2 linked regions of the Homo sapiens genome follow. The protein of the gene in region 2 purifies or fractionates together with the protein of the main gene of each other region. This does not show direct contact. Each region holds a gene or a part of one and is shown on either strand. Other genes may lie near its edges.

Region 1 (3,680 bases), on a different chromosome or scaffold from region 2:
GATCCTCCCAGCTCAGCCTGCTGCACAGCTGGGACCACAGGCGCGCACTGCTGTGCCCAGTGAATTTTCTGAAATTTTTTTTTGCAGAGATGGGGTCTCGTCATGTTGCCCAGGCTAGTCTCAAAGTCCTGAGCTTCAAGCAATCCTTCCACCTCAGCCTCCCAAAGTGTTGGGATAATAGGCGTGAGCTACCAGACCCAGACTAGAAAGGTTTTTTATGTGAAATAAATCTTGTTCCAACTTGGAAAGTTAGGAACATTTCTTCCTTGACCCTGTAAATGGGAAAAGGAGGGACCCTTAACACCTCCACACAGCTAAAACCCTTAAGTACCTTTACAACCCAAGTGAAATTAACAAATTAACATTTTGTGCCTAAGTCCCCATCCACCCCACCCTCTTATCCTTTAAATTTCAGAAAAAGAAAACAGGGAAGACAGCAGACATCAAGCAGAAAAAAAGGGAAAAGGATGAGGTTCCTCAAGGCAGTGACTATTCCTGGGGAAATGAGGCACAAATAACACAGCACTGAGTTTTATTAGGGATTTCATTAAGGTTAAATTTCTAGGAATGAGGGAGTCCTAGTTAGAGGACCCAAAAGCCCACGAAGCCTCCTCAGATCTCATAGTGAACCACCCGCTCTGGTTCTTTGGAGGGATCACCGCCTCGTTCCAGGTACAGATTATTGTAAGGATACTGCTTTGGTCCCTACAGAAAAAAACACAGGTCAGCAAGAACATACATTCAGTCAATACCTGGCTACACCCCACTCTGAGTTAACAATCACGCATGGTAAATGGGTACACAGTAGCCTCTGGTCAGACCCAGCTGGGCTAGGAAGGCAGGAACAGCACTCCTCTTCCTCACTCAGCCCAAGGCAGAGAGAAAGCCTAAATTGTAAGAGAAGTGGTGCCTACACTGTGAGAGAGAAGGAGAAAGGGGGAGGGAAGGGGGTTAGGGAAAGGAGGGGAAGGGAGGAAGACAGGGAGGGAGGTAAAGAAAGAGAGAAGAGTGTGTTAGAGTCAGAGGCAACACTTTCTAAATGAGACGATGCATCCATCCATCCCACTCTCTCTCGGGGTCGAGACAGACTCAATCTCCTTTAAGTCACTCAGCCTCTAATGGTTCCACCACTAAAGTGGCCCAGCAAATGAGGCGTGCAGCAGCAGTGGTGGGGGAAAGCACAGAGGAGACAAGGCTGGGACGTGCTTTAGGGGCTGCTGGCTTTACCAACAAACAGCTGTCAGAGAACACAGCTCAAGGGGAGGAGAAAAGGGTGATGTGCTTACAGAACTGAAAAATGGAAGAGCCACACTGTTCCTTGCTCTCCTGAAGTGAAGTTAGTGCTCACCCTAGCCCTACGTGCATTCTCCAGCATGGAGCCCCTGGGGCTTGGTAGGAAGGCTCGTGTCAGTGCACACAGACATACCAGCTACCTTCAGGACATTGATTGTCTCTGCAGAGGTAGCACTGGGCAGCCAACTGCAAACACAGCAGCCTCCCTGCTTTCAGCTTCTCTCCTTCCAGTACATCCTGGAGACTACTCCTGGATTAATCTTCCTAAGAACTCAGCATTCATTATGTCACTTTTCTGTTCGAAAACCCAAAATGGCTCCCTGCCACCTAGAGGCAGACCAAGTCATCACTGTATCCCCAACCGCTAGCACAGTCTGCATCTGGTACATAGTACAGGCTCCATAAATATTTGTTCAATTAATGCTTTATTACACCATCAAGTCCAAATCCCTTAGCAATGAAATAAAAGCTGCCCAACCTAACTGACCAACTTACCTCACAATATTTTTTAACACAGTGATTTCCAAATCTAGGTGCACATCAGAATTACCTGGGAGCTTGTTAAAAATACCGCTTCTGGAACCCTACTGTGATGCTACTGAATTAGGAGCACCAAGAAGTGGGGCCTGGGAATCTGGGTTTTTAGCAAGTCTCCAGGAAACCAATGCAGCCGGTTATTTAGGAACGATTCTATACCTCTATTCTACTCCAGCTAACTCACCCTCCTTTTCCTTCATTGTTTTCTTTTTTTTTTTTCGAGACAGAGTCTTGCTCTGTTGCCCAGGCTGGGGGGCAGTAGTGTGATTTCAGCTCACTGCAACCTCTGCCTCCCAAGTTCAAAGGATTCCTGTGCCCCAGCCTCCCAAGTAGCTGGGATTACAGGCACGCACCACCATGCCTGGCTAATTTTTTTGTATACTTTGTAGAGACGGGGTTTCACTATGTTGCCCAGGCTGGTCTTGAACTCCTGAGCTCAAGCAATCTGCCCACCTCAGCCTCCCAATGTGCCGGGATTACAGGCGCAAACCACCATACCTGGCCGCCTTCATTGTTTTCTCTTGCCCCAAATGTTTTCTCCAACTTCCCACCACCCAAAGCGTGTGTGTGTGTGTGTGTGTGTGTGTGTGTGTGTGTGTGTGTGTGTGTTAGCATCTAGGTAGCCCTTCTCCTTGACAGTAACTCATACCACTAAGCACATACGTGTGTGTGTGTGTGTGTGTGTGTGTGTGTGTGTGTGTGTGTGTGTGTTAGCATCTAGGTAGCCCTTCTCCTTGACAGTAACTCATACCACTAAGCACATACATTCACTATACACATATATACACATAGATTGTACAGAATTCCCATATATCTGTTCAAATGTTGCTCATGTAACTTATCTAAATTTTCTTAACTAAACTTCCTTAAAGCTAGAGAATTCATTTTCTATGTCCTTTACATTCTCCAAAATGTAAGTCTATGCCTGTAGTAGACTCTTAATTGCTTCCAATATACTACAGGACGTGCCCTTCACAAGTCCAACAAAGGATAAGATTTTCACTCAAGATTCCTTAACTCTACTGTGAAAGATCACTTAATGAAATATTGTTAATAAATATAATCCCCAAATGGCAACTCTGGTGACTAGCTGGTTTCCACACACTCATTGCTCATCTAGTCTTCAAGTGTATCTACTCACCCAGACTGGTCCAAGAAGTAGGGGTGGAGAAGTGCTGTGGTACTTGTGGCAGGCCAATGGGTCAAGGCCCTCCTATCTTCCTATCTCCTAAGACTCCAGGAAGCCAAGCTTGGTATTGACTGGATTCCTACCCCAGAGACTTCACTCCCTCAGGAAATGGGGCTAAGCAAGCGTGCCTAAGGGAGCACTTCTCGGATACTCACCACAGGCTGGTAGACAGGGTACACGTCCCCCACCCAGCACATGAATATCATGAAAGCCAGGAAACCGAAGAGCTGCATACACATGACATGCCAAGAAACAGGTGTGGGGGATGTATCCACACGGTTCCTGTTGTACATGTCTAGGTGCCAGTGCATCTGAGGCAGAAAGACAAATAGCTGTCACATACTACTCTTCCTGCAAAATGCAGGCAAGTCCCCAGTGATTAGAGCCTGATACAAGGCTAGACAGAAGCATTCTACTGCCCTGGGACAATATGCTGAGAACCAGGTCTGAGGCACACTGCCCTACAGGATTAGATGCTGGCCTCTGTCTAGGTTCTGCTGAATAGGGACAGCTCCATCATGGAAGTGCACAACTTTCACAGTACAGAGTTTCATGATTCCCAGACGTCCCATTCAGTGTGCCACATGCAATCTCAGATCTCACATCACTGGACCTTGCTTCCTTGAGCAGGAAAGCTTAGTGTTACTTGGTCAAAGAAGTG
Region 2 (7,517 bases):
AGTCCAGGAGAGAGGCCGCAGGAGGAACCAGCCCTGCCCACACCTTATCTCAGACCTTCAGCCCACAGGACCCTGGGGGAACGTCTGTGTGTTGAGCCCGTCTCTGGGACTTCGCGATGGCAGCCACACGTACCCTTGGCCGTATCGTACACGCCGAAGTAGGCCGCCCGGTAGATGATGATGCCCTGCACGGAGACACTGAAGCCCTGGTACAGGCCCCGGATGCCGTCGGACTTGGTGATCTTCACCAGGCAGTCTCCCAGGCCTCGGAACTCGCGCTCTGTGCCTGACTTTCCCACGTCCGCTGCCAGGCGGGTTCTGGCGAAATCCAGCGGGTACACGAAGCAGAGGGAGGTCGCGCCGGCCGCACCGCCGGAGGCCAGGTTGCCCGCAAAGTACCTCCAGAACTGCGTGTGCTTGTCCACGCCCCCCAGGAAGATCTGCTTGTACTTATCCTTGAAGGCGAAGTTGAGGGCTTGAGTGGGGAAGTAGCGAATGACGTTGGCAAGGTTGCCCCTCCAGAAGGACAGCACGCCCTGCTCCTTGGGGATGCGGACAATGCAGTCCACGATGCCCTTGTACTGCTTGTCGGCGGCGATCTGCTTGCTGGCGTGCTGGACCTGGGGGACGCAGAGGGTGTTCAGACCAGACCCAGGGCCAACCACCCAGAAACATCCCAGCTACAGGGTGCATCCTTTTTTTGACACAAGTCACTCTTGTTGCCCAAGCTGGAGTGCAATGGGGTGATCAAGTGATTCTCCTGTCTCAGCCTCCCGAGTAGCTGGGACTATAGGCGCCCACCACCACGCCCGGCTAATTTTTTTGCTTATTTAGTAGAGACGAGCGTTCCACCATGTTAGTCAGGATGGTCTCGATCTGCTGACCTCGTGAGCCACCGCACCCGGCTCTTTCTTTTTTTAAAAAGACAAGGTCTCATGCTGTTACCCGGGTTTGAGTGTAGTGGTGCGATCTCACCTCACTGCAGCCTCCAACTCCTGGATTAAGCCATCCTCCCGCCTCAGTCTCCCGAGTACCCGGGTCTACAGATGCACAACCATCAAGCTCCACTAAGTTGAAAAATTACTTTTAGAGATGGAGTCTTGCTACGATGACCAAGCTGCTCTCAAACTCCTGAGCTCAGGTGATCCTCCCTGGGCCTCTTGAAGCGCTGGGACATCCCGCCCTGCTAAGTTTAAAAAAATTTTTTAAGCCGGGCACAGTGGCTCATGCCTGTAATCTCAGCACTTTGGGAGGCTGAGGTGGGTGGATCACGACGTCAGGAGATCAAGAGCATCCTAACACGGTGAAACCCTGTCTCTACTAAAAATACAGAACATTAGCAAGGTGTGGTGGCAGGTGCCTGCTAGGGAGGCTGAGGCAGAATGGCGTGAACCCAGGAGGCGGAGGCTACAGTGAGCCGAGATCGTGCCACTGCACTCCAGCCTGGGCGACAGGGAGAGACTCCATCTCAAAAAAAAAAAAAAAGGTTTTTTTAAGATGTGGGGTCTTGCTATGTTACTCTGGCTGGTCTCAAACGATCCTCCCTGGGCCTCTCCAAGTGCTGGGACACCCCGCCCTGCTAAGTTTAAAAAATTTTCTTAGAGACGGGGTCTTGCTACGTTGCCCTGGCTGGTCTCAAACTCCTGGGCTCAAACGATCCTCCCTGGGCCTCTCCGAGTGCTGGGACACCCCGCCCTGCTAAGTTTAAAACTTTTTCTTAGAGACGGGGTCTTGCTATGTTGCCCTGGCTGGTCTCAAACTCCTGAGCTCAGGCGATCCTCCCTGGGCCTCTCAAAGTGCGGGGACACCCCGCCTGCTAAGTTTTAAAAATTTTCTTAGAGATGGGGTCTTGCTATGTTGTCCTGGCTGGTCTCAAACTCCCGGGACACGCCACCCTGTACTAGGTTTAAAAAATTATCTTAGAGATGCGGTCTTGCTCTGTTGCCCAGGCTGGTCTCAAACTCCTGAGCTCACGCGATCCTCTCCGGGCCTCTCAATGCACTGGGACGTCCTGCTTCGTTAAGTTAAAATAATTTTTTTTGAGGTGAGGTCTTGCTGTGTGGCCCCGGCTGCTCTCAAACTCCTGGCCTCAAGCAATACTCCCCGGGCCTCTCAAAAGCGCTGGGATCGCGGGCGTGACCTGTCCTTGCAGCCAAGCCTATTCATTCCCATCACCGAGCTGTCACTCGGAGTACAACGTTAGCAAGGACGTCCTGGCGGCAATGTTCCTAGGCATCATGCTACTTTCTATAAGCCTCTCCCAAAAGACAAAAAATGCATTGCTCTGGATCAGAATTGCACAAATGAGCTAAGAAGGGGGTAAGAACCACCAATAACCATATCCTGGTTATTCCAGGACACCTGCGGGCAGGCTCGTTGCCCTATTGGCCTTAGAATTACCCTTCACGGTGGAGGGAGCAAGAGCAGACACCTGCCAGGCATCCACCGGAAGGGTTGGTCCCAGCCGGGGGACCCGCAGGATTGAGCTCAAGGTCAAGGCCCGCCAGCCGCAGGGTCCGTCCATGGGCCCTGCTCAGCGCGCATGCGCCCTCCAATCCGTGCCGCATTTCCCCCCGCCCGCCGGGCCCAGTGCGCACGCGTGGACGTCGCCACGCCCTGCAGCAGCGGTCACGTGACGCGGCCCCCGGAAGCCGGCGGCGCGTGGACAAAGCGATCGCGGCCTTCCACTTCCGGCGCCCGCCTGCAAGGCTCTGCTGCCCACGTCCCCGCCCGACCCGGCCACTCGGTTCCCGTCCCCTAGTCCCCGGAGCGGCCGCGCCCGCGTCCCCACCTGCAGCAGCAGCTTGACCCGCTCGATCGGAGCCACGGCCGTCTTGGAGATGGCGGCGGCGATGCCTCCGGCCAAGAAGTCTTTGGCGAAGGAGATGGCCTGTTCCGTCATGGTGGCAGGGCGGGCAGCGGAACGGGAGGACAGCCGGAGAACGGGCGCGGAGAGTGAATGGAGGGCGTCGCTGGCTCAGCCCTGCCGCCGCCTGGACCGAAAGGACGGAGCAGCCACCGCGCAGCCGCTAAGACGCCGACGCCACGCCCACTCTCCGCCCCCGCGCCTCCTCGCGCCGCGCTCATTGGCTGCGCCGCCAGGCCCCGCCCCACACCAGCCTGCGTGCCTCGCCTCTGAGGGCTGCCGGGAATCCCGCTGCGTCCCGCCCCGCACTCCAGCGAACCGCGCCCATTGGCTGCGCTCCCCGGAGACGTCCCGCCCCGCACCCCTAGGTATGCCGGGAGCCAGGCCCCGCCCATGCGCCGTAGGGGCCGCTGGGGGTTCCGCGGCAGCCTTGACCTTGTGAAGGTCAGGCCGCTGCCAGTACCCGAGCGGGCGGGAGGGCAGCTGCGGAGTCAGAAGCCCACCCTGATGCCCAGTTCGCTCCGAGTGCGTCGTCCGCTTTCTCCCGGAGGCCGCGGCGACCCCGCCGGGATGTGCGACATGTGGTGCCCCGACCCCCGACCCTTGACCCTTGACCTCCGGGCAGCTCCGACCCTTTCAACACTCTCCGGGGTCGTGCGTCGGGAGACCCCGGCCCCTGCCCGCGTGCACCCGGGGGGCCCCGCGCGAAGCCTGCGGCGGCTTCCACGTGGGCGCGGCTCAGTCCCGCTGCCGATCCGTGACTCCGCGCCGCCCTCCGCGCCCGGCCTAGGTTGGTGGGGGGGGGATCTCTCTGGGCCTCCGTTCTTTGACCCCGCGGTGCCCTCCGCGCCGGGGCTGGGGGTTCCGTGGGCCGCGCCCACCCGCCCGGGCTCCCCTATTTCCCCGTGTCTGTGCCCGTGTCTGCCCGGCGGGGGCTGCGGCCGGGGTCCTCCTTCGCGACCTCCCACTCCGCCCTTCCTCCCTCCCTCCCTCCCTCCCTCCCGCCTCCCTCCTCCCTCCCTCCCGCCTCCCTCCTCCCTCCTCCCGCCTCCTCTCCCTTCCCGGCTCTCTCCCGCCCGCCCTTTTCTCCCCGTCTCTTCCTTCCCTGCTTGCCTTTGCTTTTTGCTGCTTTCCCGCCTCCCTCCTTTTTCTCCGTCTTTCCGTCTCTGCCTTCGTTTCCCTCCCTCCCTTTTTCTTTCATTTCTCTCTCCCTTTCTCCTTCCTTTCTTGCTACGTTTCTTCCCTCTTTTTCATTTTTTTCCTTCCTTTTTCTGCTTTTCTCCCTCCGCCCTTCCTCTGTTTTTTCTTTGCTCCCTCCCTCTTTTTTCTCCCTCTTTCCGTCTCTCCTTCCCTTTTCCTCTTTCCTTCCCTTCCTCCCTTTTCTGCCTTTCCCTCCTTCCCTCTCTTTTCCTTTTCCTCTTTATTTCCTGTCTCCCTTCCTCTCGTCCCTTTCTCCCCTCTCTCTTTTCCGTTTTTTTTTTCTTTTGAGACAGAGTTTCGCTCTTGTTGCCCAAGCTGGAGTGCAAGCTCCGCCTCCCGGGTTCAAGCGATTCTCCTGCCTCAGCCTCCCAAGTAGCTGGAATGACAGGCATGCGCCACCGCGCCCAGCTAATTTTATATTTTTAGTAGAGACGGGGTTTCGCCATGTTGGTCAGGCTGGTCTCGAACTCCGGACTTCAGGGGATCCGCCCACTTCGGCTTCCCAAAGTGCTGGGATGACAGGTGTGTGAGCCACCACGCCTAGCTGTCTCTTTTCCATTTTTTAATTTTTTTTTCATTTTTCCTCTCTCCCTTTGCCTCTCTTTTTCTTCTTCCTTTTATTCTTTCCTGTCTTGTTCTTTCCTTCCTCTCTGTTTCTCCCTTTCTCCCTGTTTTCCTTTTTTTTTTTTGAGATGGAGACTTGTTCTGTCACCGAGGCTGGAGTGCAGTGGCGTGATCTCAGCTCACTGCAACCTCTGCCTCTCAGGTTCTAGAGATTCTTGTGCCTCAACTTCCCAAGTAGCTGGGATTACAGGTGCCAGCCACCCCACCCGGCTATTTTTTTTTTTAAGGACAGATGGCGTTTCACCATGTTGGCCAGGCTGGTCTTGAACTCCTGACCTCAGGTGATCCGCCCACCTCGGCCTCCCAAAGTGCTGGATTACAGTCGTGCGCCACTGCGTCCCGCCTCCTTTTCTTTTTTCTTCTCTCCTCCGTCTTTTTCTATCCTACCTCCCTGCCTCTTTCCTCTCTCCTCCCTCCTTTTCCTTTTTCTTCTCTCCTCCCTCCCTCCTGTTTTTCTCCATCATTCCCTCTCCCTTCCTTTCTTTTTCTCCCGTTCCCCGTTTGCCTCCCTCCCCTTTTTCTTTCCTGTCTCCCTGTCTCCTTTGCTCTTTTCCTCCCTTTCTCCCGTCCCTCCCTCCCCGCCTTCCTTTTCACTTCTTTCCCTTCCCATTGCTTCCTTGCGTTTCCTGCCTTTCCCTGTCTCTCCCTTTCTTTCCTGCCTTTCCCTGCCTCTCTCTTTCCTGCCTTTCCCCATCTCTCCCTTTCCTGCCTTTCCCTGTCTCTCCCTTTCTTTCCCTCTCCTCCCACTCTCCCTCCTTCCTCCCTTCTTTTCTTTCCTCTTCTTTCCCTGTGTCTTTCTTTTTTCTTTCCTTCTCTCTTCCTTTTCTCTCCCTGTGTCTTTCTCGCTCTTGTTTTTCCTTTCTCTCCTTTGTGTACTGAGAAAATGACAGTCCCCGGCTGTGGGTGGGCAGGAGTGACCCGCCCCAGAGAGCGGGGTCACCCTGGGTGACTCCTGGGTGCAGCTGTGAGCCCTGCCTGAGGCTTTTCCTGACCTCTGGGGAGGGCGGCTCAGCCTGGGGCTGGAGGTTGGGGCCAGCTCTGGAGGCTGGAGTGGCTGCTGGGCGGCGGGACGGGTGTCTCAGAAGTCACTGAGGCATGGGTAGGTCTAACCTTGGGACATTGCTGTGGGGAGGGCTGTGGAGACCAAGCACATTCCTGAGGCTCTGCCAGGGCAGCGGGGGTGGACAGTGTCCCCTGAGGACCCAGGACCAAGCCAGGCTCGCTACAGGGGTCCTGGAATAGAGGACAGAGGCCAGGAGCGCTGTGGGTGCTGGGCAGGGGTGGGGAGTTTGCTGGGGAGCTGCGCCTTACAGACCTGTGTTTGTTTCCCAGCCTCAGCGAGGCCGGGCTGGACGGGGCCCTGGTGCTGGTTTTCAGTGCCTCAGCGAGGCCGGGACCAGAGCTGCTATTTCCAGATGAGGCTGGCTCGCATCTGCTCTGGCCGGGGCTCCAGGCCTGAGCCCTGCAACACGGCGTTCCCTTTCCAAGTCTGCAAAGCCTGTCTTAGGGGAGAGAAGAAGTTTCCTTCCATGCGGGTGGGGACGGCTAACCATGTCCAGACACTGAGACCGGTGCTCTGTGTGCTCAGCCTTCAGCCTGCACTGGCTTGGTGGCTTGGTGACCCGCCAGCAGGGTGGTGCTGTCTGTGGGCTCTGCTCAAGCTCCTCTCAGAGCCAGGAGGATGCCCGCCTGCTTGGGCCTGGCTCCCAGGATGTGCTTGGCAAATGCTTCTGGGATGGATGGATGGATGGGTGAGTGGATAACGGATGGATGGATAATGGATAGATGGATAATGGATAGATGGATGGATGGATGGATGATGGATGGATGGATAATGAATGGGTGGGTGGATGGATGGATGTGCTCGATCGGCAAATGCTTCTGGAATGGATGGATAATTGGATGGGTAATGGGTGGGTGGATGGATAATGGATGGATGGATGGATAATGGATGGATGGATGGATAATGGATAGATGGATGGATAATGTATAGATGGATGGATGATGGATGGATGGATGGATAATGGGTGGATGGATGATGGATAATGGGTGGATGGATGAATAATGGATGCTTCTGGGATGGATGGATAATGAGTGGGTGGATGGATAATGAATGGGTGGATGGACAGATGGATAGATGGATATGTTTGCTTGGCAAATGATTCTAGAATGAATGGATGGATGGATAATGAATGGGTGGGTGGGTGGATGGATGGATGCACTCTGTTGGCAAATGCTTCTGGGATGGATGGATGGATAATGGATGGATAGATGGATAATCAATGAGTGGGTGGATGGATGGATAGATGGATGTGTTTGCTTGGTAAATGATTCTGGAATGGATGGGTGGATGGATGGATGGATGCGCTCGATCGGCAAATGCTTCTGGAATGGATGGATAATTGGATGGGTAATGGGTGGGTGGATGGATGCATGGATAGATGGATGTGCTCACTCAGCAAATGCTTCTGGAATGAATGGATGATGGATGGATGAATAGATGGATGGATGGATGAATGGATGGATGGATGGATGGATGAATGAATTGCTAATTGGGGCTGTTTTTCCATACAGAGTGCTGCACGTGGGACTTAGCCTTGGACACTAACTCCTTTGCCCCTCGTATCTGGGAGGGAACAACACAGTTGCTATGCCTGACTAGGGCATGACCTGGGAGGCCTTTGGGGCCACACAGCCTCCTTGGGAAAGGAGGATCAGGTGGGCCTCACACCCAGGAATTGGAAGTGGGAGAGACAACAGCTGCTGGGTAGTGGGGGTAGAGCTGTGTCTCTCACTGCCCTGCCCCTCCAAGGACCAAGAAGAAAGG

Evidence for each region. Proteins that work in one complex are often made in the same cells at the same time.
Region 1: the proteins of SLC25A6 (region 2) and NDUFB8 fractionate together in Homo sapiens (co-fractionation; 2 studies listed by BioGRID). This does not show direct contact.

Annotation. Positions count from the first base shown.
Region 1 is NC_000010.11:100,523,225-100,526,904, forward strand, and holds the end of NDUFB8 (NADH dehydrogenase [ubiquinone] 1 beta subcomplex subunit 8, mitochondrial isoform 1 precursor), read right to left. Parts: intron 3,331-3,680; coding exon 3,175-3,330; intron 916-3,174; coding exon of another isoform or gene 865-915; exon of another isoform or gene 706-864; coding exon 613-705; 3' UTR 516-612; downstream 1-515. UniProt on the Homo sapiens protein: Accessory subunit of the mitochondrial membrane respiratory chain NADH dehydrogenase (Complex I), that is believed not to be involved in catalysis. Complex I functions in the transfer of electrons from NADH to the respiratory chain.
Region 2 is NC_000023.11:1,389,108-1,396,624, forward strand, and holds the start of SLC25A6 (ADP/ATP translocase 3), read right to left. Parts: upstream 2,903-7,517; coding exon 2,792-2,902; intron 621-2,791; coding exon 134-620; intron 1-133. Other genes in the region: serine/arginine repetitive matrix protein 1-like, read left to right, coding at 2,901-3,124, 3,235-3,656, 6,023-6,441, 7,265-7,285. UniProt on the Homo sapiens protein: ADP:ATP antiporter that mediates import of ADP into the mitochondrial matrix for ATP synthesis, and export of ATP out to fuel the cell.